Linked DNA regions of Homo sapiens. The protein of the gene in region 1 interacts with the protein of each later gene in a pairwise test. Each region holds a gene or a part of one and is shown on either strand. Other genes may lie near its edges.

Region 1 (3,825 bases):
AATTTTTCTTAAAATGTGATCAATGTAGTTGTTTTAAAATAGAATTTTTAGTTGTTTTTCTGACTCCAATTAGAAAATTGTTAAGTGTGAACCTTTTTATATCTTTAGGAGCTGTTTTGGCCCACAAAGGATATTTTCGTGAAGCTCGTGATGTATTTGCCCAAGTAAGAGAAGCAACAGCAGATATTAGTGATGTGTGGCTGAACTTAGCACACATCTATGTGGAGCAAAAGCAGTACATCAGCGCCGTTCAGATGGTAATAGCTTCTCTTTCAAGATATTTTTATATCTTGTTCATTGTTAAGCAGATGTTTTCTTAGCCATTCTGGCCCTGTCATGGAGCTGCATGCTATCTCTTGTGATACTGTGTCTATTTAGAGATTTATAATTATATAATGCTAAGGCCAGGCTTTGGTATCCAGACAGAGATGTGAGTCCTGGTTCCACCACTAATTACATGCCTCAGGCAAAGGACATCCTTTCTGAGCCAGTTTTCCTATCTATAAAATGGAGATAATTGTACCTTAACTTCATAGAATTTTGTGAGGATCCCGTATGAAAACTACTTGGCACTAGCATGCCTAGCATATTAGTAATACCCAGTAAGTAGTAGGATTGAATATTTATTTGTGTATTCAGTTTCTGAAACTGAACTGTGAGTTTTAGAAAGGTTAAATGACTTATTTAAAAGAAAACAGGCCAGGCATGGTGGCTTACTCCTGTAATCCCAGCACTTTGGGAGGCTGAGGCGGCTGAGGCGGATGGATCACGAGGTCAGGAGTTCGAGACCAGCCTGGCCAACATGGTGAAACCCTGTCTCTACTAAAAATACAAAAATTAGCTGGGCATGGTAGCACGTGCCTGTAATCCCAGCTTACTCAGGAAGCTGAAACAGGAGAATTGCTTGAACCTGGGAGGCAGAGGTTGCAGTAAGCCAAGATCCTGCCACTGCACTCTAGCCTGGGCGACAAAGCCAGACTCTGTCTCGGGAAAAAAAAGAAAAAAGAAAACAAAACAGCGATAAGATTTAATGACTGTAGAATTTTTTTATGCTTACATTTGTTGAGTGCTTGAGCTCGAAATAAAAGTCATACTCAGCATCCATAAAATTAAAAAGTAAAAAGGATCTTCGGCTCTGTGGGATATATTATGGTCAGAAAGGAAAAGCTTACAAAAAGTAGACAAAAAGAGCAGTCCAGGCTCCTGAGAAGTGGTTTACCTTTTTCTAAAATGGGTGGGTTATTACCAATATTCAGAGTACTGGAAAGTCAATAATCACAGAAACTCACAGAACCTAGATTGCATATGGAGCTTCAGAGGTTGTGTTTTGTGAGGCTGGCCTTCCTGATCTGCTGAATGATAATGTTGTCTTTTATAAATGCAAATTAACTACTAGGGATATTCAGGAAAAAATGGTCTTAACCATTTTTCATGAAAAAGGTCTTACCTATGACAAGAGGTATTCCATGGTCAAAAAGTGCTATGTTCATGTCACAATTAACACTAGTATTGTATTGGTTTTACCAAGAAGTTAACAACCAGAACTGTAAGACTCCTCATGCTCATTGCCAGTAGGTTCTGCCCATTGTTAAGAAAGGTGTAGATGGTAAAACGCAAAGGACAACGGTGTATGACTTCTCATCAGTGGTCAATAAGCTGATTCTAGATAGTATTGCTAAAAGTATGAAAAAGGCTTTCCAGTCTGTTTACCCTTTCTTTCAATGTTGGTCCAAATTTCAAATGGAAAGAAACCATTTCAAGCATCTAGTTTTTCTAATGGTCAGATTTTTTATGTTGTGAAAATGTATCCTGATGAATGTCAAAAATCATTCCCCAAATTATTCTCTGAAATTAACCATTCAAAGGGTAAAACACCTTTTTACAGAGCTTTAAAATTGCAATGCCATTTTGCTACAAAATGAAAATGTCATTTATTCTTTGTTGTGTTTTAATTAACTTTTTTCTTTTACTGTAGTATGAAAACTGCCTCCGAAAGTTCTATAAGCACCAAAACACTGAAGTTGTACTCTATTTGGCCCGGGCCCTCTTCAAGTGTGGCAAGTTACAGGAATGCAAACAGACTTTGCTGAAGGTAAAAAGGAGAGATGTTATTCCCATCCATTTCTGTGCTACATTGTATTTTTTAATTCTTCGTGATGCGTGTTCACATACCTACTACTTAATAATACTCTGCTGTCTAAGATCCTTTTCATGTCATTTGAACATATGAAATATTTATTTTTTATTCACAGGCTAGACATGTGGCACCCAGTGATACAGTTCTTATGTTTAATGTGGCCTTGGTCCTGCAAAGATTAGCTACCTCTGTCCTGAAAGATGAAAAAAGTAATCTGAAGGAAGTACTTAATGCTGTGAAAGAACTGGAGCTTGCACATAGGTAAAGATTTTGTAGAAACAACCTATGAAATGCTTTATTTGGTCTATGACCATACCATCTTGAACTCTCCCGATTTTGTCTGAAATGCTTTGTTTAAAGCTATTTGTCTCAAGCTGCTGAAAATCACTTCCTTCTAAAGGTGGTCTATTAGAATCATTCCAGCAATAGTTAAGCCAAAGCAGATAGCAGCTGCCACCAGGTGGTGCCAAACTATAGTCAGGATCCTGCCAGATTTGGATCTTGTAGCTTGACCTCTAGAACTGGCTGGCTAGCTTTGCAAACTTGCCATAGATTTTTTATTAATCTGACAGTAATGTGACCCAGCATTTTACACATGTGAAATTTTTTGGACACTTACGTTGGTCTTCCATTTTACACCAATGTGTCTTTTAATGGGATGTTGATTTTCATTGAACTAGGATTAAGGTTTTACTTCTTAAATAATGCTTAATAGTTTTATTCAGTTCAGCTCAAAATTTATTTAGCCATATAGTATTTATATGGTGAGTCAGTGTGTGGTGAAATTAAAACCTGTCATCTCTTCAGGTTTTGTCCAACTTAATATTTTTATTCTTGTTTAACAATTCTTGCCTTGCCTGGTAAATTATAAGTGCTTTCATGGCCTGAGCCCCGTAACCTCCATCCTGACATATTTAGTAAATTTCATGTTTAGTAAATACTTGTTGCTTGAATTGCTTTGTGGTTATTTGTGAATTTACTGATAATATTAAATATAACTTAGACCATCTTGATGAACGTGTCTATTAAATGTAATGAGTGGCATAAATTTGTGTAAATCAGTCAATATGCAAACCTTTTCTCAGACTTTGTAGCACAGATTAAATTTTTTAAGAGCTTTATTTCATTAGAATCTCTTTTTTTAAAAGTGAAGTATTTTCTCGTTTCATTTAGATACTTCAGTTATTTGAGTAAAGTGGGAGATAAAATGAGATTTGATTTGGCCCTTGCTGCTACAGAAGCCAGGTAATGTTACTATTTATGGAAGGTGACTTTGGGTGAGGCAGTGATATTTACATGGGCTGGGAAAGTGCCACAGTAGGGAACAGAGGTTCCTGACCTTCCACAGGTCAGTCTTTCACACTTCTCTTGGGGACTCTCTAATCTTTGCCAGGACTTTTTCCTTTCAGGGAATTGGACAAAATTGCCTTAGTACAAGTACTTGAGTTCTGGGGGAAAATACTTTTCTATTTTACTTATGTCAGCTATGTCAGCCTAGTCAAGATAAAATTCATGACTCTGAGTTATATGTAAAGATAATGTTGGAAATCTTTTTAGCTGTGCTTTGAGAGGACATTTATAGTTTGGAAACTTAACATAGTTGGCAGTATTGGCTTATGATAAACTAAGTTAATTTTGCTAATTAAGACTCCATACATTGGTATGGTATGGCAAGTGTAATGCAAAAA
Region 2 (3,825 bases), on another chromosome or scaffold:
CCAGTTCTTGGGGTCCTGAAAGGTTTTAAAATGGCCTTGATAATGATGAGCTGTAAAAATTAAACATCCTCCTCCCCCCGCCCCAAACAACTGAACTGAACTGTACTAAACTGAACTAAGGCAGGGTTTTTGGCTGCTACTTTGTTCAAGTTCAGGTAAGTAGAAGATATCTCATGTCTAGGTCTGAAAACAGCCAATGAAAGAGTTGCTGGAAATCATTCCAGGCAGTTATTTTTAAAAATGGTTTTAAGTACAGACAGGTATCACTTAATGATGGAAATACATTCTGAGAAATGCATCAGTAAGTAATTTCTTCCTTGTGTGAACACCCTGGAGTGTACTTACACAAACCATGAGCCTGCTACACCGTTAGGCTATATGGTGTAGCCTATTGCTCCTAGGCTACTAACCTGCACAGCATGCTACTGTACTAAATACTGTAGGCAATCCTAACCACAATGGTATTGAATGTATATGAACAGATCTAAACATAGAAGAGGTACAGCAAAAGTACAGTATCATAATCTTGGGGGACCACTGTCTTATATTGGTCCCTCAAGCAAAACATGATTACACAGTGCATGATTGTATAGGAAAGTATCTTTCTAAAACCCTTCACACCCCTGTGTGTGTGTGTGTGTGTATGTATATTATATATATGTGTGTAAGAAATATGTATATATTTCCTCCTCCTCTTGGAGAAGCCTGGTGTTTGTCTTTGTTCCTTCACACTGGCTATAACAGGGTTTCACTGTGATTCTCTTAGATTGAGTGTTTCTGTGGCATTTCACACAAGAACACAGTTTTAGGAGAGCTTTCTCTCTTTGGCCATCTGCCTCATCCCAGGAAACCAAAGCGCTGGCACATTAGCTCAGGGAAATTGCCCATGTCCAGTGAAGAGATGGTCCTGTCTACGTAGGCAGGTTCACTTAACCTTAAAACAGTATCCAATAAGTGATTTATGCCCAGCCTACCTCAGTCTTAGCTAAGTGATCCTTCAAGCTCCCAGAACTTAACATCTACCTGTGTGTGGATGCCTCCCACAGCCCATTCAGGGACTGAGGCCCTGGCTGAGAAGGTATTAGAAGGTTCCACATGCTTGGCAAATCTGATGCGTTTCCCCTAAATCCTGGAGCGAGTTGCTTTCCACCCTTCTTCCCTGGTTCATTTTGACTCTTTTCGCTTACTTAAAAAAAAAAGTCAATAATGTCTAAGCTTATAACAAAAATGACTGGATTCCATTTTGTGTTTCAAAGATTTGAATTACATTAAGCATCCAAAATATATCCAAATGGAAAAATGTTCATTAATAAATCATTTCTGTCTTCCTGAATAATGTAGTTGTAAAATTTAACAACTTGTAAGAAATATCTTGTAAAATGTACCTGGTTTTCCTTTTGAATATTCAAAAGCCTAATTTTAAAGAACTATTTGACATTTTAGTTTTTCATGTCTTTTGTTTTTTTGTCTTGCTCTGTTGGCAGGCCGGTGTGCAGTGGCGCAGTCTCTGCTCACTGCAACCGTCACCTCCCCAGTTCAAGCGATTCTCCTGCCTCAGCCTCCTGAGTAGCTGGGACTACAGGCACGTGCCACCATGCCCAGCTACTTTTTGTATTTTTAGTAGAGACGGGGTTTCACCATGTTGGCCAGGATGGTCTCGATCTCTTGACCTCATGATCCACCTGCCTCGTCCTCCCAAAGTGCTGGGATTACAGGCATGAGCCACCATACCTGGCCTTTAGTTTTTCATGTTCTGTAAGATTCTTTTAGGAATGATAGTGTGAGTGTTTTACATATGGTAAATATATTTCATTTTATCATAATTTAGGTGTGAATTTCCAGAAGGAAAGATGGGTAACGATTATATTAATTTAAGGTAATATTTAAGTTACAGAGGTTTTTCTTACTTGTGTTTTTTTAATAGAAAAAGTAGATTTTATATCTAGTTAGCTATCCATATTTAAAGTAAATATTTTAGGAATAATAAAAATGTTAATGTTAAACAAGTTTGCTGAGTTCCTATTTATCATAAAGCTTAAGTTTTGCCTTTGAAATCTCATTTTTTAGCCATCCATTTTAGATACATTGAAGGCTGCATTCCCATTTTCTTTTCATTCACACATCCACTTCAATAATTGACTTCAGTGCTTTCCAAGTTATGTGTGGTGAGGGATCAGTTTTTATTTTTTTAATTTCCAGTCCTTCAAACGAACACTTTTATAGTACAGACAAATTACTAGGCAAATGAAATTTTAAAAAGACTTAGAAAATATAAGCCCAATTTTAAAAATTATTTAAACAAGTGTAAACTAGAAACTCTGTCAAATTGCTGTGAAAAGTTTCTAAGTACTAATTTCTTCACAGACTCGTACCCAACAGTTGGTGAAGGGTCCCCAGTCCTCAGACACACTTTACCTGGCACAGTTCTGGTGGAAGCCATGCAAGACTGTTGTTGTGGTACATGATGATTTTACTCCATTTGGCTGGAGGTTATTTCAGGAGTGTAATTTCTTTTTTATATAAAATATTCATATTATATCAAAACCACATGACTTTTTTTAAAAAGACAGAAGTGTTTTTTTTCCAGCTCTGCTTTGCATGCCCATGTGCCCTGTAACTCCTTCCGCTGTCTCCCCCCGTGTGACACTGAGATGTAAAGATAGCATGGTGTTTAAAAGTGGCATAAGATAGGCATGAGTGTCTGTAAGCGCACTGTCATATTTACAAGCAGCAGTTGAGATGTGGAAGTGGAATTAAGTAATTAGGGATAGCTGTGTTGTGAGTGAAAGTATTTAAAAATATGATCAGTGCACATTTAAGGCAACGGAGCCAGTCAGGTCAAATAACAACTAGGATGAAACTATCAGTTTTCTTTGCAAACATCCACTGGCTTTGATTTTACCCAGATGGTAAAAATATATTATCAAGATAGTTGTTATGATAAAGGGAAATGTATCCTTTCTTTTCTCTTGGTGCCTCAGATCTACAGGCCATGAAGAAATAGAAGTCTCTACATTCAGATGGATAGGAGGCATTATATTTTTATCAGTGTTAGGAATATACCGTAGATATTTTACATTAAAACTGAAGTCACAGAGATGATTCAAATTCTTCTTCATAAAGAAGTGAGTGTTTACTTGAACATCGTTAACATTTTGATGAAGGGTCATTGACAAAGAAGCCATACACATTCGCTGTGTCAACTCCTCACTTCAGACTATTCATGAGGCACATAATCTTTTTTTTTCCTGCATAGTTGTGGAATATGAATACATTAAGGGGAATTTAATGGTTTATGATCCATGTCACTGTTTGATGGTGATGTTGAATGTTTGTTCTCTGGTGTCATAAGGCAGCATACGTATACAATAGCTTAGAAAAGGGGAAGAAATTATTTGTTTCTCTGCCACCCTCACCTGTAGCAGTTTTAGTTTAAAACCTTTTATTTACCCTTCTTAGTTTATTTTCTGTCCATATAACTGAAAATTATTGTTTGTTAAGAAAGAGATAGATGTATGGTGTCAAAGGCAGATGGCAGACTTCGGGGTTAATGTCATTGTTATTGTAATTGTCTGTTTATTCCAAAACATTTACCTTTTTTTAAGACTTTATTTTTTAGAGCAGTTTTAGAACATTTACTTTTTATGAGTTTTTATTAATACTTGCCTGTGGTTGACAAATCAGTGGTGTGATTAGAACCAAGATCTGTCCTATTTATACCCGGAGACAAACTCTTCTAAATAATTCTTGCTTAGTTCTTTCATATTTCTCTCTATTATTACTAAGAATTATGACAGTAACTCTAGATAATATATAATATGCTTA

The links.
Region 2: the proteins of CTR9 (region 1) and SMAD9 interact in a two-hybrid assay, tested with the Homo sapiens proteins (one large-scale study listed by BioGRID and IntAct).

Annotation. Positions count from the first base shown.
Region 1 is NC_000011.10:10,768,235-10,772,059, forward strand, and holds part of CTR9 (RNA polymerase-associated protein CTR9 homolog), read left to right. Parts: intron 1-108; coding exon 109-257; intron 258-1,975; coding exon 1,976-2,092; intron 2,093-2,252; coding exon 2,253-2,398; intron 2,399-3,310; coding exon 3,311-3,382; intron 3,383-3,825. UniProt on the Homo sapiens protein: Component of the PAF1 complex (PAF1C) which has multiple functions during transcription by RNA polymerase II and is implicated in regulation of development and maintenance of embryonic stem cell pluripotency.
Region 2 is NC_000013.11:36,874,994-36,878,818, reverse strand, and holds part of SMAD9 (mothers against decapentaplegic homolog 9), read left to right. Parts: intron 1-3,825. UniProt on the Homo sapiens protein: Transcriptional modulator activated by BMP (bone morphogenetic proteins) type 1 receptor kinase. SMAD9 is a receptor-regulated SMAD (R-SMAD).